Regions from separate parts of the Homo sapiens genome. Here region 2 is linked to region 1. Evidence: fine-mapped expression QTL. A gene starts in region 1. The other region holds a variant in brackets. All regions are shown on one strand. Distances are from middle to middle. Region 1 holds the start of UVSSA (UV stimulated scaffold protein A). Region 2 overlaps UVSSA (UV stimulated scaffold protein A).

What was found.
Region 2: its variant is fine-mapped to the expression of UVSSA in tibial nerve (GTEx, PIP 0.98).

The regions. Positions count from the first base shown.
Region 1 is chr4:1,336,912-1,351,404 of GRCh38, reverse strand. It overlaps UVSSA (UV stimulated scaffold protein A), which reads right to left and starts at 4,197. Exons shown (of 14, transcript NM_020894.4): 1 at 3,645-4,197; 2 at 3,216-3,315; 3 at 1,551-1,881. The coding sequence starts at 3,313. It overlaps MAEA (macrophage erythroblast attacher, E3 ubiquitin ligase), which reads right to left. Exons shown (of 9, transcript NM_001017405.3): 7 at 14,411-14,493; 8 at 12,788-12,983; 9 at 11,268-12,331. The coding sequence ends at 12,236. RefSeq lists silencers at 286-454, 3,819-4,258, 4,499-4,828, 5,049-5,138 and enhancers at 3,509-3,588, 5,434-5,956, 5,957-6,480, 11,705-12,223.
Region 2 is chr4:1,381,239-1,394,860 of GRCh38, reverse strand. It overlaps UVSSA (UV stimulated scaffold protein A), which reads right to left. Exons shown (of 14, transcript NM_020894.4): 13 at 10,921-11,095; 14 at 6,812-8,993. The coding sequence ends at 8,900. Among named protein-coding and RNA genes, the nearest start is that of NKX1-1, 18 kb to the left of the region's middle. RefSeq lists an enhancer at 1-424. The variant C/T (reference allele first, on the strand shown) is at 10,545.

The DNA.
Region 1 (14,493 bases):
CAAAGAAAAAAAAAAAAAGAAAGAAAATAAAGACTAGGGCTGGCCCAGCACAGTGGCTCATGCCTGTCACCCCAGCACTTTGGGAGGCCGAAGCAGGTGGGTCACAAGGTCAGGAGATTGAGACCATCCTGGCTAACACGGTGAAATCCCATCTCTACTAAAAATACAAAAATTAGCCGGGCGTGGTGGGGGGTGCTTGTAGTCCCAGCTACTTGGGAGGCTGAGGCAGGAGAATGGCGTGAACCCGGGAGGTGGAGCTTGCAGTGAGCTGAGATCGCACCACTGCACTCCAACCTGGGCAACAAAGCAATACTCCATCTTAAAAACAAAAAATAGCCAGGTGTGGTGGCGTGTGCCTGTAGTCCCAGCTACTTGGGAGGCTGAGGCAGGAGGATCACTTGGACCAGGGAGGCGGAGGTTGCAGTGAGCCGAGATCGCGCCACTGCACTCTAGCCTGGGTGACAAACCAAGACCCTGTCTCAAAAACAACATCATCAACAACAACAACAAAAACTAGAGCTATCTATACAGAATGTGAGGAAGATAAAGCTCAAGTAGGCCTAACAAAAGACAGCACCCATGCGTGGCCAAGAGCCCTATGCGTCTGTAAGTTCACAGTAGTTTTTTTTTTTTTTTTTAAGAGACAACGGTCTTGCTGTGTTACCAAGGCTGGACTCAAACTCCCAGGACCAGGTGATCCACCAGCCTCGGCTTCCAGAGTCAGTGGGACTGTGGGTGTGCACCCTCACACCCAGGTGTTCACAGTGCATTACAACAAAACACAATGCACGTCTCTCTGCTGTCTGAGCCCGGGAAAGCCAGCACGTCTGCTAACTTAAAAGAGGTGACGAGACTTCTCACCCCAAGTACCTCACAGGTAGGAGAGCAGTGTGCTTGTTCCATTAGCAGGCAGAGGCTGCTGACTGGACCCAGGAGTCTGAAACAAACCCTGAGCATGAACCCTGGGAGACAGGGCACTCCAAGGGCACACAGGGAAGCCAGCAGGGCTGGGTCATTGCACTGGGGAGGACTGAGCCTTCGTGGCAGGTGGGGTAAGGGGCACGGTAGGGTCTGGGCAATGAGGCTGGGTTCAGGCCACAGTGGCAGATCCTGGTGGGTTTCATCATGCCAGGCACCAGCCCGAGCCCATAGTAGGGTGCGGGTGGAGCCTTAAAGTGCAAGGTTGGGACAGGTCCCAGAGTCCAGGGGCCACTGTCACAGAAAACGTTGCATCTGAAAAGTTGGATTTGGCTTTTCCTTTGTCTCCTACACGCACATAAAAAATGACACATGCAGCCTCAGCTCCACCCACACATAAAGCTTATGCTCTTCCTCTCAGAGCTGCGCCGCCCCTCTCAGGGAGGCCGTGACCCTAGATGCTGCCCTCTTTCCCACACCCCACAGATGGTCTGGCAGCCTGGGTGTTCAGGCAAGGCCAAGCAGGCCCCTGCTGTGCTAGGTTCAACAGGAGGCGCATCTTCACCCTGGTATCGTCTGCCCTCCTCACGTCAGGTAACCAGTCTCTGAAAAAATGGGCCAGGCCCACCTACCTTTTTGTTGTGTCTTAAGAAGTGGTAGCCCAAGGCAAGCTTCTTGTAGGCCTCCCCAAACTTCTCATTCCACCCTTCCACGGCCCGGGTGGTCGCCTGCCTCAGCCTCTGTGCCGCCTCCCTGGGGGGCGGCAGAGGCTGTGCGGGGTCTGTGCCCAGCGTGAGCTCCAGGAACTCCTGGAAGTTGGAAACAACCAGCATCCGGAACTGGTGAGACCTGACGAAGAGTTCCTCCACAATCTGGAAGGCTGAGAGACGGATCTCGGCGTGCTCCTGGGTCAGCTGTGCTATCAGCAGGCGGTAGGCGCGGCTCAGCTGCTCCTCTGAAGACCTGGGGATGCGAGCTGGCCTGACCCAACTGCCCCACACGCAGAGGATGGGCGGGGGGAGACTCTCCGTGCATGGATGCCGCACGCACGTGTGGCAGGGACCACCACTGCCTTCCCATCTTCATTCTCCCCTTTTCTAGAGCAGGGTCTGCAAACTACTGCCCAAGGGCCACATCTACCTCCCCAGCCCCTGCCTGTTTCTGTGTGGCCCACAAGCCAAGAATGTCAATACAAACAAAAAATACTTGGTGAAATGTGAAAATCATATACACTTCAAATGTCGGTGTTCATTCACAAAGTGTCATTGGAACGTCGCCCATCTATCCACCTACATCATCTACAGCTGTGTTCACAACTGAGGCATTACAGCAAAGCCTGAAACACAAACCATCTGGCTCTTTAAACACACGTTACCTAGCGCAACACACACCGCCCGGCACAAACGCCCACCGCCCGGCACAAACGCCAACCGCCCGGCACAAACACACACCGCCTGGCACAAACCGCACACCGCCCGGCACAACGCACACCGCCCGGCACAAACACACACCGCCTGGCACAACGCACACCGCCCAGCACGCACACTGTTTCAGCTGGGTGCCTCCTGCTGCAGGAAGGAAGGAAGGCCTAGAGCTCGGGACATCTCCCAGCCCCTCCTGAATGCTCCTATTCCCAGCTCCTGACCCCACATAAACCATTGCGAATTCGATTTCCTGGCGCAGGCCACAAAACCTGACCTGAAATTTTCTATCAAAATGTCAACACTCCATCACTGTATAAACAATCTATAAACTGCCATTTTACAAACACAGGATACAGAATAATCAGTGTCCTCGACTTATGCTCCACCCTCCGAGGGGAAGTTTTGCTTCCCCCATGAATCTCTGGCTGCCTGAGGGTGACGGCAGAGATCCCCTCCGGCGTTTTCCTTGGAGGAAGTGAACAGAGGTGGACATACCCTAAAGGCGATGGACCAACTCGCCCATCAGCAAGCTCTATTCTTTCCCTTCGAAAAGTCCAGCAGCAAAGAAAAAGATGCACGTTTCTCTCTGAATCACATTTGTGCACTCAAGAACTCCTACAGGATGTGCTCCAGACCACACAAATGGGAATGAAGAGAAGCACCAACCACAGAGCAGTGGGGTCCCCAACGCCACACGCCCCGACCCCAGAACATGACCACCCGTCAGAGCCGGGTACTGCAGGGCCCCGAGAAAATGTCCTGGGTGTGTCCCTCGGGTGGTTCTCTCCCAGGTGGGGGCAGGAGGGCAGGGCCCTGTGTGTGTCCTGGGCTCAGTGGGCCAGTCAGTTACTGTTACTGAACCCTAAGACATACTTGCAAATTTTCTTCAGTTCCTTCATTTTCTCAGGATTTAGTCGGGGTTCTCCTGAAGTTGTGAGCTCTTCTACCAACTTCGAAAGTTTCTGATCCATATCTAGAAATAAGTAAGGCAGAGATGCTATATCACCATCTGTATTTTATAGCTCTCGGTGTTATTAACGTGTTTACTGGGTTCCACTATAAACCGAAAGCTCCGGGAGGACCCTGAGGCTGGGGTCCATCTGTGGGTGCCTCTCTGGGAAATATGTGTGTCCAGCAAGGCCTTTACGGCGGTGATTGCAGTTTTAAAAGTGAACCTTAAACTCGGGACCTCTACAATCCCGTGTGTGGGACGCTGCATTGAGGGTCGTGCGTTAAAGGAACCAGTGGCGCTGTCCGAATCAGCTTTTCCCCAACGTGACTGTTGCTGTTTCCCTTATTCACTCAGATTCCGCAGGGCAGCCTCCAGCAAGGCTGCAGAGGCCAAGAGGAGCCAAGAAATTCTGAGACCAATGAAAAGTCGCGTCCGGAGAGCAGGGGCGGCCCTAACGGAGGCAGCCTGCCCGGATACCCAGGGCCGAGCACCGCGGCGTGCCTGGTGGGATGAGGCGAGGGCCTGCCGCACCGCCAGGGAAAGGCCGAAGGACCCGGAAGGAAGCGCCAGGCGAGGCCGGGGCGGAGGCTGGGAAGCTGCGCCCTACTCGGGGAAAGAAGGGGCCCGGCAGGGCCACGCGAGGCTTGGACCGCGGGGTCGCTCTCGCACAGCGGCTGCACCGGGCGGGCGCGCCGGCTTCGACGGTGCTCGGGGGGCTGCGGCCTGTCACTCGGCCCAGGGCCCGCCCTCCGGCCCCGCCGCCGGCGCTCTCGGGCACACGGGACACGCCCTGGCCGCAGGTCTCTGCCCGGCGCCCGCAGAGCCCCGGGGACCGAACCGGCGCGACCCCCGCCCGGCAGCGTAACCACAGCCCCACCTACCGCTGACGCGGCCGCTCGCCTCGCCCCGCCCCTTCCGGCGGGGGGACCGCCCCTCTTGTCAGGTGCCCAAGACCTCTACCGCCATTGGCTGGCCCTGGGCCGGACGCATCAGGACCTGGGGTCACCACAGCGACGACTGCACCTACCGCTCGACGCGGCCTTTCTCGCCGTTGCCCCACCCTTTCCGGTCAAGGCCCCGCCCCCTAGCACGTGCCCTGAGCTCGACAGCCAATGGCTCACCCCAGCCCAGGAGGCGCAGGCGCAAAGACGCGGCCGAGGTCTGCGCGGTGACGTAGGCGCGCTCCCGGCGAGGGCGAGGCAGGCTGCCGGGGGTGGGGAGGGGGACGCACGAGAAAAAAGAGGCGGGAGGGCGCAGAAAGTCCTTAAAGGGGCCGCATGTACGGGCGCCGGGGGCGGGGCCGGCCGGGAAACTGAGGCCGAAAGGAAGTTCCGGTCTGGGCCTCAACGCCACGCCCGCCCGCGGGCTCGCAGCCAGGTCCCTTCACCTGCAGAGGGCCGGTGAGGACCGCCCAGACGGGCGGGCGCGGGCCCCCGCCCCCGAGCTCGCCCCGCGCAGGGCGCCCTGAACCCCGCGGCGCCTCCCCGCTCCGGCCTCGGGAAGGGAATCCCTGGGCGGGCTTGGGGGTCTTCGGGGCCCACCTCGGCGCCAGACGCACAGCAGGTACCCCTGGGCCCGGGCTGGCCCTGGGCGGAATGAGAAGCAGAGGCGCCGTCCGTCCTGCCGCCGAAGTCCGCAGCCTCGAACGCAGGGGAGTGCGAGGTCGGCTGCGGACGGACGGACCTGGAGACCGCGCTTGGGAAACCGTGGCTTCGGAGGAGCGTGGTGTGGACCCCACTCGCGGGGCGCCCGGCACAGGCCACGCAGAGCAGACGCCCGACTGGGCTCCCGGGGCTGGGTGCAGGGCGGGGGCCGCCGGCGGCGGGCCGGGGTTTCTTTTTCGGGGGGATGGGCGTGCCCTTGCATTACGGTGGTGGTAGCTCACAACTCTGTTAATCGTGTTTTTACAGGGTGGGTTTCAGGATGTGTGAGTTATATCTCAGTAAAGCAATTATTTTAAAAAGGAAAAGAAGAGGGACTCCCTGCGCCGCCCCTCTCTGCAGCACCAGCTTCTGTCCCTGGGCGTCAGTGGCTCCCAGCTCCTAGCTTGCAGCCAGCCCCGAGCCGCTCCTCCGCCTCACCCCTTCCTCACCCTGCCTCTTGCTTCACTGAGCAAGCTGCAGCCAGACCCTCCCTCAGCGCCCCTTGCCCTGTGCATCCAATCCCCGGCCTGTGGCTTCCTCCAAGGCACCCATCCAGCAGTTTCCCTCTGTCTTCTACAGCGTGGTTTTTTTTGTTGTTACTAGTTCTCATTAGTATAAAAGGGTGCCGTTTCTCCCATACTAACAAAACCCTCTCTTTATCCAACTTTTCTTACCAATTGCTAAGTCCAGTCTCCTTTACACTGCCCCGGGGTGTCCTCTCAGCCCTCAGGCTCAACAGCACAGCCAAGCTGCCCGTCCACTGCCCTCTGTATCCGCTGATGGCCCTGCAGCCTTTTTTTTTTTTTTTTTTTTTTTTTTTTTTGAGACAAAGTCTCGCTTTGTCACCCAGGCTGGAGTGCAGTGGCACGATCGCGGTTCACTGCAGCCTCCGCCTCCCGGGTTCAAACGATTCTCCTGCCTCAGCCTCCCGAGTAGCTGGGATGACAGTCACCCGCCACCACGCCCAGCTCATTTTTGAATTTTTAGTAGAGACGGGGTTTCACCATGTTGGTCAGGCTGGTCTCGAACTCCTGACTTCAGGTGATCCGCCCGCCTCGGCCTCCCAAAGTGCTGGGATTACAGGCGTGAGCCACCGTGCCTGGGCCACCGTGCCTGGGCCTGCCCTGCATCCTTCTGTTCGCTTGGACCAATTATCTGACTCACTTGGGCTTCTCTCTTCCTCTCACTCCATGCCCATTTGGTTTGCAAATCCTGACAGCCCTACCTTCAGAACACATCCAGATCTGAGCACGTCCCACTGCCTCATTGCCACTGCCAATTCCTGGCCACCCCTGCAGCAGGTCACTGCCGTCACCTTGTCTTTCCCTTGCACCCTGGTACCCCTAGACCATCATGCAGCAACCAGAGGGACCTTTGAAAGTCTAAGGTCGGATCACAGGATTCCTCTACACAAAATCCTCCGACGGCTCCCATCCCAGGGCAAGGCAAAACCTGTCGTGGCCTGTGTTTGCTGCCCCCTGCATCCCACCGGTTGACTTCTCCAGCCTGCTCTTGCTGCCACACGGCCTCTGGGGAGCGGATCCCTCTGCCGGGAAGCTTCTGCCAGTATCCACAGAGTTCCTTGCCTCCTTCCAGCCACTGCTCATGTCTCACCCTGAGCAAATACTTCTGCACCCGCTCACCTCCCTGGCTCAACACCCCCCATCCGTTTTCTAAACCTGCCGTGCTTGTTCCCAGGGCACTTCTGGCCCTTGTGTCACACAGACTTACTGTCTTACTAGGTGATTCGCTTTTTTCTCTTCACTCCTAAAACATACAGTCCCTGAAAATAGGGATCTTTGTTTCATGAAGCCAGACAAAAAGCAGGTGCTCAATATTTGTTGAATGCTGGATAAGATTAGAAAGCCAAGATAAATCATGATGAGAGTTAGACGATATTCTTGTTTGTTTTTGTTTGAGACAGAGTCTTGCTCTGTCGCCCAGGCTGGAGTGCAGTGGTGTGATCTCGGCTCACTGCAACCTCTGCCTCCCAGGTTCAAATGATTCTCGTGTCTTGGCCTCCCAAATAGCTGGGATTACAGGCGCCCACCACCACGCCCAGCTAATTTTTGTATTTTTAGTAGAAACAGGGTTTCACCATATTGGCCAGGCTGGTCTCGAACTCCTGGCCTCAAGTGATCTGCCCACCTCAGCCTCCGAAAGTGTTGGGATTACAGGCATGAGCCACTGCACCAAGCCAAGAATTAGAAGATACTTCTAAAAGATATTTTAAAAGAACCAATGGAAACTTAGAGATGATAAAACCCAAGCAGGATAAACAAAGAAAACCACCCAAGGCACATCTTAAATTGCAGAAAACTAGTGACAAATCTTAGAAGCAGTCAGATTAAACAAGGCGTATGACATACAGGCACAAAGAAGCCAAGGATTTCTTGTCCCCTCCTCCCCCTCCACCCAAAAAAAAAAGCCAGAAGAAAATGGAACATCTTTAAGGTGGTAAAAGAAAAAATACTGTCAATCTAGAACTGTATATGCAGCAATATAGCCTTTAAAAACTGAGGTGATGTAAAAGCATTTTCAGACAAAAGCTGCATGAATTATGACCAGCAGATTTGCAGTCCAGGAACTGTTATAGGATGCTCTTCAGATGAAAGGAAAATGATACCAGAGGCAAACTTTATAAAAGGAATGAAAAGTTCTATAAATACTTTTTTTTTTTGAGACGGAGTTTCACTCTTGTCACCCAGGCTGGAGTGCAATGGTGCGATCTTGGCTCACTGCAACCTCTGCCCTCTGGGTTCAAGCGATTTTCCTGCCTCAGCCTCCCGAGTAGCTGGGATTACAGGCACGTGCCACCACGCCTGGCTAATTTGTGTATTTTTAGTGGAGACAGGGTTTCACCATGTTGGTCAGGCTGGTCTCGAATTCCTGACCTCATGATCTGCCTCCTGGAGGTGGCAATACCTTAGATGCGAGAAGGATCTAAATCTGCAGGAAGATATACCATATTCATGGGTTGAGGACTCAATATTGTTATGATTTATAAGTCCTTGTTATGGACTGAATTGTGGCCCCTGCCTACCAAATTCCTATGTCGAAGCCCTAACCTCCAATGTGACTTTATTTGGAGATGAGGCCTTTAAAGAGGGGAACGTTAAATGAGATTCTAGGGATAGAGCCCTCATCTGATAGGACTGATGTCCTCGTAAGATGAAGAGACTCCTGAGATGTGTGTGCACAGGAGGAAGTCCACCACGAGAGGTACACAGTGAGAAGGGGGCCGTCTGCAAGCCGGGAAGAGAGGCCTCACCGGGAGCCAACCCTGCCAGCATCTCCTCTAGAACCGTGAAGAAATAAATGTCCATTGTTTAAACCCGCTAGTCCGTGGTCTTCTGTTACGGCAGCCGAGCAAACTAATACCGTCCCCAAATAGGGATGATAGGTTCACTGCAGTTCCAGTGACAATCCCAGCACACTTTTTACAGTGTTCAGCAGACACTGATGAGTTGATTTTACAACGTGCGTGGAAATGCAACAGACCTAGGACCACCAAGACCATTCTGAAAAAGCAGAACTGGAGGACTCATCATACCCCCTGGTTTCAAGATTTGCCTTAAAACGGCAATAGTTAAGATAATGTGGTGTTAGGACAAGGATAGACCTAAAGGCCAGTCTAACAGAAGGTAGTGTCCAGAAATAAACCCCAACTTAACACAGCCAGGAATTTTTTCTAATGGAGCCAACGTTATTCAACGGGATAAGAAAGGTCTTTTTAACAAATGGTGTTAGAACAATAGAGTAAACATATGGGATGGTGGGGAATCATCCTCAGGCTCTTCCTCACACAACACACACAAGTTAAGAGATGTGTTACAGACTTAAAAGCCGAAACTGAATCTTCTGGAAGATATATTATTGCAACCCTGGAATAGGCAGATTTTTTTTTTAGAACATAGAAAAGCATTAGCCACAAAAGAAAGAATAAATTGAACTGCACTAAAACTTAAAAAATCTGCTGATCAAATGACAGTCAATAAAGTATAAATACACATATCCCTCAAAGGATTTGTATGTGAGGAATCCCTACAAATCAGTAAGATAATGCAATTTAAAATGAGCAATAGACAAATATGTAAATTACAATCAGCGCATCAGGTCAAAATCAGACATCAAAGAAAAGCAAGGGAAAATCACACTGTGGCCCCAGTGCACACCCACCTGAATGACTAACCTGACACTACCAAGTGTTGACAACAATGTGGGGCCACTGGAATCCTCACACTGCTGCTGGAGTGTAAAACACTACCACCAACTTTGGATAAATCTTTGGCAGTTGTGGTACAGTTAAACATAAACACACCATGACTCAGTTCCTTCTACTTCCAGAGAATTACTTCCCAAAGAAATGAAAATAATGTCTGCAAGAAGACTGGCACACAAATGTTCATAAGAGGTTTACTTATTATAGCCCCAAATAGGGAACAACCCAGATGTCTATCAAGAGAATGGATACAGGCCGGGCGCAGTGGCTCACACCTGTAACCCCAGCACTTTGGGAGGCTAAGGCAGGCAGATCATGAGGTCAGGAGATTGAGACCATCCTGGCCAACATGGTGAAACCCCGTCTCTACTAAAAATACAAAAATTAGCTGGGTGTGGTGGTGTGCACTTGTAATCCCAGCTACTCGGGAGGCTGAGGCAGGAGAATCGCTTGAACCCGAGAGGCAGAGATTGCTGTGAGCCAAGATTGCGCCACTGCACTCCAGCCTGGTGTACACTGTGGTCTGTGCATACATGGATTACTATCACTCCACTCAGCAACACCTAAGGACGGAACTGCTGACATGTGCAACAGGCATGAACCTCACAAGCGTCTGTGGAAACAAGCCAGATCCACCAGTGTCCACATTCCACCATCTGACACCTATGGAGGCACAGCTCACCTACGGTGACAAAAATTAGAGCAATGATTTTGTGTAGGGGTTGTGGATAACTCAGAAGGTACAAGGGGTCCCTTTCTGGGGCCATGGGGACGTTCCATGCCTGGGCTTCAGTGGTGGTCACATGGAGGTACATTTATTAAGACTCATTGAGTAGCTTTTACTTGTATGTGCATTTTGGTGTATGTAATTTTTACCTCAATTGAGAAAGAGTACAGCGAGATAACACAACCAACAAAACATCTCACATTCAAGACTCCCAGTGCCACTCGCTGGTGTGGATGTGGAGCAGATGGGCAGAAGTGGGTGCAACCCCTTTAACAAACCGTCAGTGTCTGCTGAGTGGACACGTGGCCCAGCAATGGCAACTCCTCGGCATCTCCCCACAAAAGAATGATGCGTCCAGCAAGGGTCACCTCCCGGAGTGCTCACAGCAGCTTTACCTGGACACCGCCTGATGTCCACCGGCGGGAGAGGGGCCAGGCCGCTGCGCTTGTTCTGCCTGGAGAGCACAGGCCTGTAACCAGGCAAGACTTTGCCGTGCCAGGGCTGAGCCGCCGAGTAACGCTGAGCCACGGACCCACGCCATGTGGCTCTGTGTTCGAGGAGCTCAGGGCCGGGGTGCGCCACTCCAATGATGACTGACCAGGATATTGACCGGGCAAGGCCAGGGGCTGGGAACAGTCTGTTTGGTGGTTACATGCATGTTACACAGAAATTCGTTATGTGAACTTAGAATGTGTGTGCTCCAGTATGTTCTACTCGAGTTAAAAAGGAAAGAACAGGACGCAAGACAAGGAAAGCCCCTGCACGTGAGGACGGTGGAGGCCGGGGCGGCTGCGTGGCAGTGGGGCCACAGGGTCTGCTTCGGCCGAGGGGACCTGGGGACGGGCGCTCCAAAGAAGAGCACGTGGGAATGTGGTGGGTTCCAGCTGGGTGCTGTGGAGGGGCCAGGGCAGCCACCATGGGGTAAGAGATGGGCTAAGGGGCACCAGGCTGGCCACAGGAGCTGCGACGGGGCACTGGAGAGAACAGGGGTGGGCGGTGGGGGGAAGGGCCAGTGGCCACAGCCCGCAGGCCTCCTTAGCCCAACCCTAGACTCAGCCCAAGCCGCAGGCCCAGGCTTGCTGGTGGCTGCAGCCTGAGCCCCCACCCCCAACAGACAATGGCCCGTGGGTCCCAGGAACCAGTGTCTGATTCACCCAGCTGCAAGCCGGGGCCTCAAGACGCTGGGGCCATCACGCCTCAGGGCAGCGCCCGAGAGGAGGACTGCGGTCCGGGCAGGAGTGGCCTCCAGCCGGCTTCTCAACTCCCGGTGGCCGTGGTGCCAGAAGCTACGCATATGCCCGCCATGCTGCCCGGGCCCCGGGGAGGAGCAGAACACAACCTCGGTGTTAGAAACGCACGGCAGCCTCGGCTCACACGGAAATGAGAAATAGAAAACCATTTTATTCGCATGGTTTACATTTACAGTTTATTAGCTAGTCAACATCAACATGCAAAAATAAGCACTAACTACAAACCTCTACGATACGGTTCTCTGTCAGCTACGGTGGTTCATTTGTTTTGAAAAGTCATCAGTACTTCTTTCAACTGAACGATTAATTTCTGTAATGGATAGCAATTAGACTCTACAGTTATGGAACCATCCGGCAAGGCCTCTGCAGAAATTTGGTCCCGTGGATTTCCACGTTATACATTCTCGAAGCAGGAAGTAAGGCGGCACACAGAGGGTGTGATATCGAAACGACGCAGCTACGAACACAGCCCCGCGATGTGATATCGAAACTATGCACGTACGAACACAGTCCCGCGGACACGACCCGCGAGGCAGGCGGGCGTCCTCGAAGCCAGCCCCCGACGGTGGCGGCGCCAGGCGTTTTGGCAGCAGCTCTCGAATGAAGCCATAAGTGTCCCTCGTGGCGCGGCATCGCGGGTCACTGCAGGTCAGTCCGGTGCCGCTGCCACCTTCCCCGGCCAGGCCAGGGCCAACAGGAAGTGGTGAAGGACCAGCCCGTTCTCCAAGTCTCATCGTTCACAGAAGGAAAGAAACTGAAAACACAGGGAAATCACGGACTCCTATATTTTAAACGTTCTTAAGTTTCCCTCGGTGTTTAGGTCAGTCTTTAAAGAAGAGTTTCCTTCGCAAGTTGAAAGTACTTTTCAGAAGCATCAAATGGTTGACGTGTTACAAAATCCTACCAATCCAAATGTTTTCAAGTACAAACTTATGAAACCTTATTTTCTCTCTTCCTAAGAGTATTTATCGTTGCTCACGGATCTTTGGTCGCAAGAAACAGAAACGCCGCGGCAGGCTGGAGCGTGGGACAGGAGGAAGGCGTGGCCTCCCCGCCCACTGCAGCCCGTCCCCGAGGCGTGCGCTTCACGACGTGGGGCCTACATGATGTACACCTTCTCGGCTTGTGAGAAGTGGAAGACTTCTTTGGTTCTCGGGCACACGACTTTATCATCTTGACGGATAGAAAGCAGAGACTGAAAAATAAAACCGGGAATGCATTAAGGCAAGCGACTACAACGTACACACGGATTTCCATGGAAAATCCCCACAATGAACCACCAGGGAATGACTCATCCTCTCAGGCAAAGTTCCTTCCCGAAGGCACACCTGCCAAAGAAATCCCGGGGCCACCTCGCCTGTCCTTCCCACCCCTTCATCCATTTCGAACGAAGCTAAGGCAGGGTGGGGCGAGAGGACAGCCCTGTCCCAATGGCGACGTGTGCCAGCCTGGCCCCGCTGCCCTGCCCGCCCCACACAGCCCTGTCCCGATGGCGACGCGTGCCAGCCTGGCCCCCCGCCCTGCCCGTCCCACACAGCCCTGTCCCGATGGCGATGCGTGCCAGCCTGGCCCCCCTGCCCTGCCCGTCCCACACAGCCCTGTCCCGATGGCGATGCGTGCCAGCCTGGCCCCCCTGCCCTGCCCCCCTCACATTGTAGCCGTAGACGTAGCCGTTGGGCAGCATCATGGGCGGATTGTTCTCGTTCATCACGTCGCCAGAAATCTTGCAGACCAGGCGGGAGTTGGCACAGTGGGCCATGGGCAGGGGCTGCGCCAGCTTGTTCAGGGAGCGGCTGCACACAGGGCAGTCAGGGCTCTTGGAGCTGCCGTCCTCCTTGTAGCACTGTCTGAGCATCGGGTCAAGGAAGGGTTGGGGGCCACTCAGGGCAGCCGGGGTGAGCCCAGCCCCCTGTGGCCACTCTGCCCTGGGCTGCGTGCCCTTCTGGCTATGTGGGCGCCATGCTGACTACACGGGGCTGTCTTTCGAGGCACAGGAAGTGCTGCACTCGACAGCTAAACAGCCCCACTGAGGCCTCGGTGGAGACAAGAAGCCTGCGCCTTCTCACCCCGGCCTCCAGCACCAGGACCACAGGCACAGAGTGGCTCCGTCGCCCGCCGCCCTCTCCCCGGCCACGCAACCTCTCCAGGCAGGACAAGAGCCACCCAGCAGGGACGTTCTGCTGGCACCTAGGAACAGGCAGTGGGCAAGCACGCCAGCCCTCTCGCCCAGAGTTCCACAAAGAGGGGACAAGGGAGGGGGCCTGAGTCTCATTCATACCCCGGCACAGCCAGGTACCAGCAGCAATCGCGAAACACTCACTGCCCTCTGGGCCTGAGGCAGGTCACATGAAAGACATTCATAGGCGGGGACAGAGTCAGTTGCAGGAGGACAGTCAGTCACAGGTGGGGACAGAGTCAGTCACAGGTGGGGACAGAGTCAGTCACAGGAGAGGGCAGAGTCAGTCACAGGCAGGGGTAGAGTCAGTAAGAGGCTGAGTCACAGGCAGGACGGAGTCAGTCACAGGTGAGACAGTCACAGGGCAGGGGCAGAGTCAGTCACAGGCGAGGACAGAGTCACAGGCGGGATGGACTCAGTTGCAGGAAGGGACAGACTCAGTCGCAGGCAGGGGCAGAGTCTGTCACAGGCAGGAAGAAGTCAGTTGCAGGTGGGACAGAGTCAGTCACAGGAAGGAATCAGTCACAAACGGGACAGACTCAGTCACAGGCAGGGCCACAGTGAGTCGCAGGCAGGGACCAAGTCCGTTGCAGGCGGGAGCCGAGTGAGTCACAGGCAGGAACTCAGTGAGTCGCAGGTGGGACAGAGTCACAGGCAGGATGGAGTCAGTCACAGGCAGGGACAGAGTCACAGGCAGACAGAGTCGGTCACAGGTGGGACAGAGTCAGTCACAGGCGGGACAGAGTCAGTCACAGGCAAGGTTCTTGGTAATCACACGGGAAAACTATTCTGAATGGTAATCTGCCGGCTGCCAGAACACATCAAAATCGGGCTTTTAGATCAATGCCCATGGCGGCCTCTGAGATGATGAGAGAGGAAGCGCGCCACTTCCCAGAGTGAAGGCTGCACGACGCATCCGAGGCCCCTCAACACGGCCCCACCCCGACCATCCAGACACCACGCAAGTGCAGCACACGGGAGCTCGGGGCTGTCTGTGGTGGGAGGACAAGAGTGGCAAGGTGCAGGGTCAGCGTGTTAAAATATGACCAAAGATGCCAACCCCAGGCCAAACCGCACTGCGCACGGGAGGTAGGATACGGTGTCTTGATGGCTGAGAGGCCAGCCTGCAGGGTGAGGGTGAACACAGAATTGTTTCCCAGCTGGTGTAGTCGGTAGTTGTC
Region 2 (13,622 bases), 44 kb before region 1:
AGGCGGGCACTCCACATGGGCACGTGAGCAGGCGGGCACTCCACATGGGCACGTGTGTGAGCAGGTGGCACTCCACATCGGCACATGTGAGCAGGTGGGCACTCCACATGGGCACATGAGCAGGTGGGCACTCCACATGGACACGTGTGTGAGCAGGCGGGCACTCCACATGGGCACGTGTGAGCAGGCGGGCACTCCACATGGGCATGTGTGAGCAGGCGGGCACTCCGCATCGACATGTGTGAGCAGGCGGGCACTCCACATGGGCACATGAGCAGGCGGGCACTCCACATGGGCACGTGTGAGCAGGCGGGCACTCCACATTGGCACAAAGCGAGGGCTCATGCATAAGAGGTGCAGGGACACCTGGACAGCTATTTGAAATTTAAAAACTGGGTTTCCTGGCTCACATTTTGTATCAAAAACTAGAAGTAGATCAATGATTTCAATATGAAAATGAAACCCATAAAAGTACTAGAAGAAAACATGGAAAACATTTCAAATATAATCTTTAAGGGGGAAGAGCATTCTAAGTAGAACACAAAACTTAGAAGCCAAGAAAGATTGATAATTCAACTACATAACTCATGAAAGGAAGATCTGAGGAACGAGATGCCCACAGTGGCCGCTGAGAAGCTCTGCCACACTCCTGGAGGCATGGAAGGCTGTGCCCACACAGGCACAGAGCTGTGTGTGTGCCCGAGAGGAACCTGAGCTGCCCTGGCCCTCACCTCTGGCTGGCTTTGTGGCTGTGTGCAAGTAAGAAGTGAAGGCAAAGGCACAGTTGGCAGCTGCCTGCTGGAGCACTGACCACATATCAACTGCGTGTCAGCAGAACCGCGATGGAGCGCTGAAGGCACACTCACCATGCATCAACTGCGTGTCGGCAGAACCGTGAGAGTTACTGGTGCAAAGCACTTAAAGGGGTCCTCTGTCCAGTCACTGGCTGAACATGAAGCTGATGAGGTGGACACTTCAAATTAGTCCAGAACACACACTAAACAAAAGGTAACAGCAACAGAACAACAATAAACTCGTGGAGAGGGTATCTGATTTCCAGAGTTGCACAGCACATTATTAAAGTGTCCAGTCTTCAAAAAATACATATATATGAGACCACAAAGAAAGAGTATGTTATTTCCTTGGCTCTGACATGGGAAAAAAGGTCATCAATAGGAACTTCCCCTGAATAAGCCCTGATGTTGAACTTAGTAGACAAGTCACCTATCTATCTTATCTTATCCTATCTATCTATCTATCTATCTATCTATCTATCTATCTATCTAATCTATCTATCTATCTAGTTTTGAAAGCGTCTCGCTCTGTGGCCCAGGCTGGAGTACAATGGCTTGATCCTGGCTCACTGCAACCTCTGCCTCCCGGGTTCAAGCAATTCTCCTGCCTCTGCCTCCCAAGTAGCTGGGATTACAGGTGCACACCACCACGCCCGGCTTAGACAAGTACTTTAAATCAGCTTCTACACATATGTTCAAATAACTAAAGGAAACTGTGTCTACAGAATTAAAGTATGAGAATGTTTCACTAAACAAAGAATATGAGTAAAGATACAGAAATTATAGGAGAGAGCCAAATGGAAGTTTGGAGTAGAAAAGTACAATAACTGAAATGAAAAATTCACTAGAGCAGCTTGACATCAGGTTTTGTTTGGCAAAAGCATCTGTGACCTTGAAGATAGGTCAACTGAGATGACCCATTCTGAGAAGAAGAAAAAATTCCGGAATAAAGGAAAGTCAAGGAGGCCTCCAAGGCTGTGCCCAGCTCCACATCAACACACGTAGCTGGAGTCCAAGTGGGGGAAGAGAACATGGACATAAAATATTTCGAGAAACGACAACCTAAAATTTCCCAAATTTGCAGAACCACAATGGAGCGCTGAAGGCATACTCACCACACATCAACTGTGTGTCAGCAGAACCATGAGAGTTACTGGTGCAAAGCACTTAAAGGGGTCCCCTGTCCAGTCACTGGCTGAACATGAAGCTGACAAAACCGAAGGATTCAATACCCACATTCAATATCAATATAACTAGGCAGAAGATCAATAAGTGAAGAGAAGATGTAAACAATCAGACTACAAGAAATATTAACCTCTATATCCAAGAAGCTCAAAGAACTGCAGGTAGGACACACTGAAAGATCCACAATTAGACACACCACAGTCAAACAGTCAGAAGCTAAAAAGAGACTGAGACATGGTGCGGTGCTCCCGCCATGGAAACCACAGATGCCAGAGGCAGTGGAATGACATCTATAGAGGACTGAAAGAAAAAGAGGGCCAACCAAGTCAGCCATATCCAGCACAATTATTCTTCAGAAGAGAAGGAAAAATTACAACATTCTCAGATAAACAAAAACAAAGAGAATTCATTGCTAGAAGATCTGTCCTACAAGAAATACTTGAGGCTGAAGTCCAAGACACCACACTCAAATCCACACAAAGAGCACCAAAAAAGACAACTGCAAAGCCAGCAACAGAGACAGCAGAAACTCATTTCTGTTTGTACATCTTTTCTTCTTCTATGTGATTTAAAAGACAACTGCATAAAGCAATAATTACAAGACTGCTGACGGACTTACAATCTAAAAGGTAGCATTTATATGACAAATACAGCACCAAGAAGCTGAGAGGAAACAAAGCTACTTGAAGTGAAGGTTTTTGTACATTATATTAAGTTCATCTGAACACTTGATTGGTTTTACGTTGTTACTGTAATACTCAGAGCAGCTGCTAAGAAAGTTACTTTTAAAAAAACCCAGTAAAACAGACAAGGAAATTACAATGTTACAAGAGAATTAAATGTCCATTTAACACAAAAAAGTAATGGAGAAATAAAGGAAGAAAGACAAAAAAGACAATATAGTAAACAAATTTAGAAATGGCAGATACAAATCCAACTTTCTCAGTAATCACACTGAATGTAAATGGATTAAACATCCCTCTCAAACAGCAGAGACCAGCAGGACAGATGAAAAACATGATCCCACTATGTGCTGTCTACAAGAAACACACTTTTGATTCAGAGCAGAGACCAGAAAGACAGATGAGAAACACTATCCTACTATATGCTGTTTACAAGAAACACACTTTAGATTCACGGCAGAGACCAGCAGGACAGATAAGAAACATGATCCCACTATATGCTGTTTACAAGAAACACACTTTAGATTCAGAGATACAATGAAAGTTAAAGGGTGAAAAAAGATACCATGCAAACAATAATCAAAAAAGAGCTAAGTGGCTATACTAATAACATACAAAAGGGACTTAAAGACATTTTTTTTTCACTAAAGACAAAGAAGGACATGTCATAATGATAAAAGGGTCTGTTCATCAGAAAGAAATAGAAATACAGATGCACTTAACAGAGCTTCAAAATTTATGAAACAAAAGCTGACAAAACTGAAGGATTCAATACCTCACATTCAATATCAATATAACTGGGCAGAAGATCAATAAGGGAAGAGAAGACATAAACAATCAGACTACAAACCAATCAGACCTAACAGGCTTCTATACAACACTACAAACCAATCAGACCCAACAGGCTTCTATACAACACTACAAACCAACCTCTGACCCAACAGGCATCTATACAACACACACACCAACCTCTGACCCAACAGGCATCTATACAACACTACAAACCAACCTCTGACCCAACAGGCATCTATACAACACTAGAAACCAATCAGACCCAACAGGCATCCATATAACACTACAAACCAATCAGACCCAACATGCATCTATACAACCCTACAAACCAATCAGACCCAGCAGGCATCTATACAACACTACAAACCAACCTCTGACCCAACAGGCTTCTATGCAACACTACAAACCAATGAGACCCAACACACATCTATACAACTCTACAAACCAATCAGACCCAACAGGCATCTATACAACACTACAAACCAATCAGACCCAACAGGCATCTATACAACACTACAAACCAACCTCTGACCCAACAGGCATCTATACAACACTACAAACCAATCAGACCCAACAGGCATCTATACAACACTACAAACCAACCTCTGACCCAACAGGTGTCTATACAACACTACAAACCAATCAGACCCAACAGGCATCTATACAACACTCCACCCAACAAGAGCAGGATAGATATTCTTCAACACTCTGGGACAGAAAATACGGTATGCCAATAAAATAACTCTCAATACATATAAAAGACGAGAAATCATACAATCTATGTTTTTTAGCCATAATGGAGTGAAATAAGAAATCAGTAACAGGCCAGGTATGGTAGCTCATGCTTGTAATCCCAGCACTTTGGGAGGCAAAAGTGGCAGGATCACTTGAGCCCAGGAGTTCCAACACAGCCTGGGCAACATAGTCGGACCCTGTCTCTACAACAAAATTTTTAAAAATTTAGCCAGGCTTGGTGGCTCATGCCTGTAGTCTCAGCTACTCAGGAGGCTGAGGTGGGAGGTCAAGGCTGCAGTGAGCTGCGATCACTGCACTGCACTCCAGCCTGGGAGATAAAGTGAGATCTTGTCTCTCAAAAATAAGAAAAGAAGTCAATAACAGAAGGAAACCTGGGAAATTCACATATATGTGGAAATTAAACAACAAACTCTTAAATAACCAAGAGATAAAAGAAGAAATCACCAGAAAAATCAGAATATACTTTTAGATTTAAAAAAGGGAAAACACAATATAGCAGAACTTAAGGGATGAAGTAAATCAGTGCTGAGATAAAAATTTATAGCTACAAATGTCTATATGAAAAAGATTTCAAATCAGTAAGCTAATTTTCCATCTTAAGAAACAAGAAAAAGAAGAGAAAATAAAACCCAAAGCAACCCAAAGGAAATAATAAAGATTACAGTGGAAATTAACAAAATAAAGAATGGAAAATCATAGGGGATAATAAACAAAACCAGAAGTTGTTTCTTTAAATAGATCAACAAAATTGATAAATCTTTAGCTAGACTAAGGGGAGTAAAAGAGAGAAGAATCAAATTACTAAAACCAGAAAATACTATGAATAGGCTGGGAGCATTGGCTAACATCCACAATCCCAGCACTTTGAGAGGTCAAGGTGGGAGGGTCACTTGAGGCCAGGAGTTTGACAAAGATCAGCCTGGACAACACAGCAAGATCCTGTCTCCACAAAAAAATTTTAAAGAAAATTAGGGCTGGGTGTGGTGGCTCATGCCTGTAATCCCAGCACTTTGCTAGGCTAAGACAGGAAAATTTCTTGAGGCCAGGAGTTTGAGACCAGCCTAGCCAACATAGTGAGACCCCATCTCTACCAAAAATAAGCTTTTAAAAAATTAGCCAGTCATACTGCCATGCCCCTGTAGTCTTAGCTACTCAGGAAGCTGAGATGGGAAGATTGCTTGAGTCTGGGAGGTCAAAGCTGTAGTGAGCCATGATTGTGCTACTGTACTCCAGCCTGGGTGACAGAGCAAGACTCTGTCTCAAACAAAACAAAACCAAAGACAGAAAATTAGCTGAATGTGGTGGTGCATGCCTGTGGTCCTTCCTACTGGGGAGGCTGAGGTGGGAGGATCACTTGGGCCCATGAGTCTGAGGTTGGAGTGAGCTATGATTGCACCACTGCACTCCAGCCTGGGCAACAGAGTGAGACCTTGTCAGTTAAAAAAATTTTTTTTAATGCTATGAACCATTATATATGAACAGATTGCAACAAAGAACCTAGAAAGGGACAAACTCCTGGAAAGATGCAAACTACTGGAACTAAACAGATCTATAATAAATGAAGATACTGAATTAGGGAAAAAAATCCCACAAAGAAAAGCCCAGCCTTCACTGGTAAATTCCACCAAATGTTTAAATAATTAACAACAATCTTTCACAAACTCTTCCAAAAAATAGGAGGGGAGGGAACACTTCCCACCTCAATCTATGAGGTCAGTAGTGACGTGACTAAAGCTAAAGACATCACAAAAAGACTACAGCCCAATATCCCTCATGAATACAGATGCAAAATCCTAGCAAACCAAAGCCAGCAGCATAGAAAAAGGATTATACACCATGAACAAGTAGAATTTGCCCCATGAATGCAAGGTCGGTTCAATATATGAGAAACAATGTAATATACTGTATCACTATAATAAAGGACAAGAATCATACTATCATCTCGACAGATGGAGAAAAAGCATCTGACAAAATTCAATACTTTATGACAAAAACACTCAACAAACTAGGAGGAGAAGGTAACTTTTTCAACCTGATAGAAGCATCTACACAAAACTGCATTGTTAGCATCACATTCAATGGTGAGAGACCGAAAGCTTCCCGCTAAGATCAAGAGTAAGACGAGGATGTCTGTTCTCACCACATCTATTCAACATTGTCCTGGAGGTACTAGCCAGAGCAATTAGGTAAGAGAAATAAAAGAAATCCAGATTAGAAAGAAAGCTGTTTGCAGATGACATGATTTTGTGTATGGAAAATCTTAGGGAACATACAACTAATTAGAATGAATAAACAAGTTCAGCAAGGAATGCTGGATACAAGATCAATACACAAAAGTCAGTTGTACTTCCACATATTAGCAATGATCAGCCCCAAAGTGAAATTTGGAAAACAATTACATTTGTGATTGCTTTTGTAAATGCAATTTATAATCTTTTAATAATTTATAATTGCATTTATAGTCCTTTTGGTTATAAATCAAAAATAATAAAATATGAGTAAATTTAACAAAATAAGTGAGAAACTTATATACTGAAAACTACAAAATACTGTTGAAATAAATTTAAAAAGACCCAAATAAATGGAAAGATAATCAGAAGCTCATGACTCAGAAGATTTAATATTAAGACGGTAATACATTCCAAAGCAATCTCTAGATTTAATGTAATTCCTATCAAAAATCTCAGCTGCTTTTTTTTTTTTTTTGAAGAAACTGATGAGTGGATCCTAAAATTCATTTGGAAATGCAAGAGATGCAGAAGAGTCAAAACAGCCTTGAAGCAGAACAAAGTAAAACTTCTCACAACAAAGCAGCACTGATCAAGGCACTGTGGCACTGGCATAAGGTTAAACAGGTCAATGGAATAGAGTCAAGTGCCCAGAAATAAGCCTGTACATTTTTGGTCAACTGATTATCAATAATGGTGCGAAGATAATTCAATGGGGAAAAATAATGTTTTCAACAAATGGTGCTGGGACAACTGGATATCCACATGCAAAAGAATGTGGGCTCTTACACCACACACAAAACTTAATTCACAATGGATCAAAGATCTACACATAAGAGCTGAAATTATAAAATGCTTATTAGAAACTAGGTGTAAATCTCTGTGATCTTGGATTAGGTGATGGCTTCTGAAATGTGACAGCAAAAGCATAAGCAACAAAAGAAAAAAACAGATAAATTGCTGTACTTCATCAAAATTAACTTTTGTGCTTCAGAGGACACTATCCAGAAAGTGAAACAACAGTATGGAAGAAAGTTTTTGCAAATCAGCTGAGTGCGGTGGCTCACACCTGTAATCCCAGCACTATGGGAGGCCGAGGTGGGTGGATCACGAGGTCAAGAGATCAAGACCATCCCAGCCAACACAGTGAAATCCCGTCTCTACTAAAAATACAAAAATTAGCTGGGCGTGGTGGTGCGCGCCTGTAGTCCCAGCTACTCAGGACGCTGACGCAGGCGAATCGCTTGAACCCAGGAGGTGGTAGTTGCAGTGAGCCGAGATCACGCCATTGCACTCCAGCCTGGCGACAGAGCAAGATTCCATTTCAAAAATAAATAAATAAATAAATAAAGTTTTTGCAAATCACATGAGGATCTAGTATCCACAGTATACATATAAACTCCTGGCCAGGAGTGGTGGCTCATGCCTGTAATCCCAACACTTTGGGAGACCGAAGCAGGAGGATCGCTTGAGGCTAGGAGTTCGAGATCACCGTGGGCAACACAGTGAGACCTCATCTCTACAAAAAATTTAAAAAATTAGCCAGGTGTTGTGGTGTGTGCCTGTAGTCCCAGCTACCTGGGAGGCTGACGTGGAAGGATGGCTTGAGCCCAGGAGTTTGAGGCTGCACTGAGCTATGATTCTGCCACTGCACTCAGCCTGGGTAAGAGCAAAAGCCCATCTCTAAAAGGAAAAACAAAAAAAACAACTGTTACAACTCAAGATAAATCATTCAATTAAAAATAGGCAAGAGGTTTGAATAGACTCCTCTCCAAAGGAGATACACAAATGGCCAGTAAGCCCACGAGAAGATGTTCGGTATCCTTCTCCAATGCTGCTGTGAACATGGGTGCACAAGCTTCCGCATGGACAGGTTTTCACCTCCTTTGTTTTATACATTGGAGGGGAACTGCATGGATAAACCTTAAAAACAACGCCAAGTGTAAGAAGCCAGGGACAAGAGGACACATGTATGAAAAGGCACATCCAGAAACAGAAAGCAGATGACTGAACGGTTCACTAGCCTTTGTGTTTGTGTTAAAAACAGCATTTGCACAAAAGTGGGTTTCCCAGAGTTCCTCTGAGTGGTCGCCTCCTGGCTGGGGAATGCACGCTCTGAAGGCTGAGCTGCACACACATTCCGTCCGTGCTGAACCCCACACCACGACAAGCACTGGTCTCACGAGGACTCGCAGAAGCCCTCTGGAACAGGGTCGCTGCCTGTGTTCACATCTCCAGGCCCGAGGGCCTCTTCTGCGAGGCCAGACCCATCACCAGACGATGCCGAACCCTGTAGCAGCAGAGCGGCCGTACCTTCAGGGCATTGCAACACACCATTTCTTTACATCAAACACAGTAATAGACAAAGCATGGTTACTGCCCAGACCCACGCCCACTCTGCTGTCCTGAGACACTGGCAGAGGGAGAAAGTGCTGATGGCCAGTGCACTGGGCCCCGCTCTCTAGTTCAGTGCGTAGTTAAACTGGTTTGAAAACTTCTCGTGCTTCTTCTGGTCCATCCGGTTCATGGCTGCCACTACCCTCCGCACAGCTGCCCTGTGGGGAAACAAGGCAAGATGTGACCTGGGAGGCTTCCGCCAGGGGCCTGGGCTCCCAGTGGCGGCATCACCAAAGTTAGGCACTGGTCCTGGGGCAACTGCTGCCCTCGGACACTGACAGACTGCCTGTGGGTGCCACCTTCAGAGACAGATGGGCGACGGGCCCCTTGGCCCTGGCCCGAGACAGACAGGCTTAGAAAGGGCCGCCCCAGGTCCCAGAAGCGGAGTCTGCGGCGGGTGGTTCTGCGCGGTGAAGGTGGCCCCAGCCCCACCTTGGCACTTCTCCCGTGGCCTCCCGCACTCCAGGATGAGGGCAGCCTCCCCCTTGGCCTCCCGGGGAGCGGCCTCGCAGGAGATGCAGCCAGGAGGCGTCAGGACAGCCCTGCCCGCTGCTGCACGCACGGCTCCACGGCCAGGGCTGGAAACCTGGAGGGCTGCAGCAGGGGGGGCACGGGCCAGGCAGGCATTCCGGGGAGCAGGATGAGGTGTGCTGTGCTGACCAGCTCAGCTGCTGCGACCCACGAGGGTGTGGAGCTGTGGAGCCAGCAGGGCCTGAGGCCACAATGTGGTGAAGCTGCCGCTCAGCTGCGGCCCCTGTGGGGCTGCCAGGCGCTGCTGTGGGGGCCCCTCGAGGCAGGGTTTTGCCTGTGGTCACCCCAGATCCTTTCTGTAGGGAGGGGTCTGGGCCACACAGCTGTGGCGAAGAGCCAGCTCCTGCCATGGGCTTCAGTGTCCCCATGAGACACAGGGAGGAGGCCTGGCATGGGCCCACTGGCCATTCCTCCTCCTGGGCATCAGCACCAAGGCTGGCCTCTGCCCCTGGCTGATCCACGGGAAAACAGCCTCACCCTGAGCTCCAAGGGCTAAGGTGCCTTGGGTGGCTGGCATACGGGATGGGTCCAGCCCTGTGCCAGGGGCCCCAGGCAGCCTCTCCACAGCCCCCACCAGCGCCCCTGCCCCACCCAAGCAAGGCTGTGGATGTACCACCCACAAGCCTGGGGGAAGCCTGGTCTGAGTGCTGTGAAGGCGCCTCCCACCCGAGCCCACTCAGGCCGGTGCACGGTCATGCTGGCCAGGAGGGGCCTCCTCTGCCCGGTGCACTTAGCACCTTCCAGGTGTGTCCAAGGGAGGGTTTCTGGGATGGCGATGGGTGGGGGCCACCTCACTGGTGCTACCAGACAAACCTGCACCAGCAGGGACTTGACACAGATTTGGGAGGGAGTCAACAGCCTCAGGTGGCTTCTAAACAAGCATTCTGGATTTTCTTAGGCGAGAACAAGGCAATATGAAGACAGAAACACAAGGCCGTGCGAGTGGCTGGTGCCCCAGCTGACAGACTGCACGCAGGGACGCCGGGCTGGTGGGCTTCGCACTCTGGCCCTGCCAAGTCCTCACCAGTCACACAGGCCCATGCTGGGCTGCAGAGACACCAGGCCAGCCTCCCAGAGCCAGTGCTCAGAGAAGACATGCTGGGGCTGGGCTCTGCTGGGGCTGACGCGTGGACCCCCGTTCTGCCCGCCTTTGCAGTCATCGCCCTCCCTGAAGTCAC[C/T]GCTGCAGAAATACGCAGGCACTGACCTGGGGGTACAGCCAGGCAAGGGAGAGACGAGGGGCTCACTCTGCACCAGCCAAGGCCTGTGTCCTGGCATGGCTCCCCCAGGAAGCGAGGATGGCGGTGCCTGGCGGTCGAGCCCCTCTTATCCTGGGGAATGCTGGGGGGCGTTCCTGAGCAGACCTGCCTGCTGCCCCTGCTGGCTGGCACTGCCCCTCCCCGGGGAAAGGCTGGGTGGTCCCCCAGGGGAACTCAAAGCAGGGGAGCCCCTGGAGGCCCCAAGTCCCTGGAATATCTTGGCGCTCAGATGGCCCCCCTCGAACACCCTCACACGGGGGGGCCACGCGGTGGGAGGTGACCCAGCAGCCACTCTTACTTGGCGAAGACTTTTCTCCCAATGCGAGCGCGGGCGGTATCAGCCTGAGCCTTCAGGTTGGTGAGGCTGGGGTACCTCCTCTTCTTCCCCCTGCCTTTCCCGCTGTACCTGGATGAGCCGAGATCCTGCCCTGTGGCTGCTTCCACGTCTCTCATCAACTCAGGGTCCTGCCATTCTGCAAACAAAACTCAAGCACTTCAGGAGACGTCTGGCACTGACCAGAGCCTCTTACCCGAGGCCCCCAGGAGGGGCTCTTGGTCTCGTCCTGACAGGGGGGCTGGGTCGCCTTGCCCACGGCCGTACCCTGGCAGCAGCAAGCCTGAGAGGATGCTCAGCGGTTAGGGTTCCCTGAGCAACAGGCTGGGGAGGGTGGGCATGCTGGCCCCCACAGGGTGAAGGTGACACAGAGCTTGCCCCCACCGCCCCACACCCCCACAGGCCCCTGCAGCCCAGAGATGGGGAGCAGGGGCTCAGCCCAGAGGCCACTCCTAGGGCACCCATGGGCCTCCCAGGCTGGAAGGCGGCTAAGGCCAGCGGTTGGGGGGTGGCACCATCCGCAAGCTCCTTTCCTGCCTGCAGGCTGGACCGTGCCCCACTAGGCAAACTGTGGCCCTGCTGGACACGCCTGCTGGTGGGGAGGTACGTGTGGCAGGGCTGGGCCAAGCATGATGCTCAGCAAAGGGCTTTTCTTTTTCGTTGATCCAAAGATGACCTGGCCTCAGGCCTCAGAAATGCAGGCTGGGGCTCTCCTAGACAGAACTGCCCTTCCCAAGCAAGCCGTGCATTGTCTGCTTGAGGCCCTGTGGCAGTGAGGGGACAGAAATGTCAACAGCCCCACTGGGCAGCCTCCCAGGCTGAGAGTACCCACCGTGCAGATGGCACTGAGGCCCTCGGGGGTCACAGGCCCAGGCTTCCTGTGGGGTTCCCCACACAAGGCGGAGGTGGGCCTCCACCAGGTGTGGTGCTGGTCGGGCTCGGGAAGGCCACCCCTGACGGGACTGTGATGGCCATGGGACTTACAGACAACCCTGGCTCACAGAAGGGGGCCAGGCACCAATGCTACAGAGGCACCCGCTCCTGCAGACAGGACCCCACGAGCTGAGCCAGTGGGACCAGGCCACGGGGGCGACCAGGCCACGGGGGCACATCCCCGGAGGAATGCCCACATCTCGGACGGATGGCCAGGCCTCCCAAGCGGATTCTTTGAAGTGAAGGAATACGGGGCCCACAATTCAGATACAGGAACGATTAATCCAAGATTAAGGAAAACTGTCCAAACAGTTTATCTCCCAGTAATAAGAAGGCGCCACAGTTTAGGAACCCGGTGAATGGAGCAATTGTTTAAACACAACGAAAAAGCCCCGGCACCCAGCAGAGATGGAGCGAGCGTCTCAGTGAAATGAAGGAGCAATTTAAAAGCCTTTGAGGAAAATCAATAGATGCTGGGACCGCGCGGCCTTCCTGGGCGCTGACGGGCCCTGCAGCAGCACGCACATTGTCACTGAGGTTAGCACCAGGGAAAGGAAAATTGCGCCGTGCGCGAGGGAGGCGGGGATCAATACCGTAGTTAGTAAAGAGACACTATTTCACATCTGACTGGCCAGCGCTGGCCGCAGCCCGCGGCCTGATACCTGTTTGTTAACAAGTCACCAAGGGCTGGAAAACCAGATACTCTTCAGGGTTGACACAAAAAATAGGCACTTAATTTGCTCCTGAGTGTGAGCCACCAGGGAAGGCCTCACCCGGAGATTAGCAGGTCAGGGCCCTCCCGCCGCCCAGGGCTGAGCTGCTGCCTCTGGGCATCAGGCTGCACTCAACATCTGCCTCTCATGACCAGAGTGCAAGACACCCGGGAGCCATGACAGAGACAGCTTGGAAGGGATCCTGGGCCCCCAGAGCTGCTCTTCAAGACAAGGTGTGAACCCCCACTTCGGGCCAGGGCCAGGCCTGCAGGTGTGGCCACTCTCCAGAAGGGACCGAGGCCGGGCGGGGACTCACATCTGTAATCCCAGCATTTTGGGAGGTGAGACAGGAGAATGCAGGAGTTCAAGACCAGCTTGGGCAATACAGTGCCACCCCACCTCTACTAAAAATAAAAATACAAAAATTAGTCGGGCATGGTGGCATGATAATTCCAGCTACTTGGCAGGCTGAGGCACGAGGATCGCTCGAACCTGGGAGGCCATGACTGCGCCACTGCACTCTAGCCTGGGTGACAGAGAGAGACCCTGCTTCAAAAAAAAAAAAAAAAAAAGCCAAATCAAAGTAAAAAGAAGAGAGAGCGCCTGAGGCTGGCCAGGGCCTCTAAAAACAAATCTTCCTTGGAAAACAGATATGCAGGGTGGGCAGATGGGCCCGAGGGGAGGCAGGGCGGGCAGATGGGCCTGGGGTGAGACAGGGTGGGCAGATGGGCCCTGCTGATGTGGCAGTGCTGCCCCACAGTGGCCTTGCTGTCCAGGGCCTCTGGGCACCCGCACTCCTGCCGCCATAGCAGTGGCCACACGCCTCCTGGACAGAGCTGTGGCCACCTGCACACTGAGGCAGGTGCGGGGTATGGCTGAGGAGGCCAGAGGGGTTCCTAGAAGCCACTCTGGGCTCAGCCCAATCACTTCTCTCGCCTTAAGGCCTTCACCTGCCTGAAAACACGAGGGAAGCAGGACCCAGCCACACAGATGGCACCTGTGGCTTCGGGGCCGTGGGTG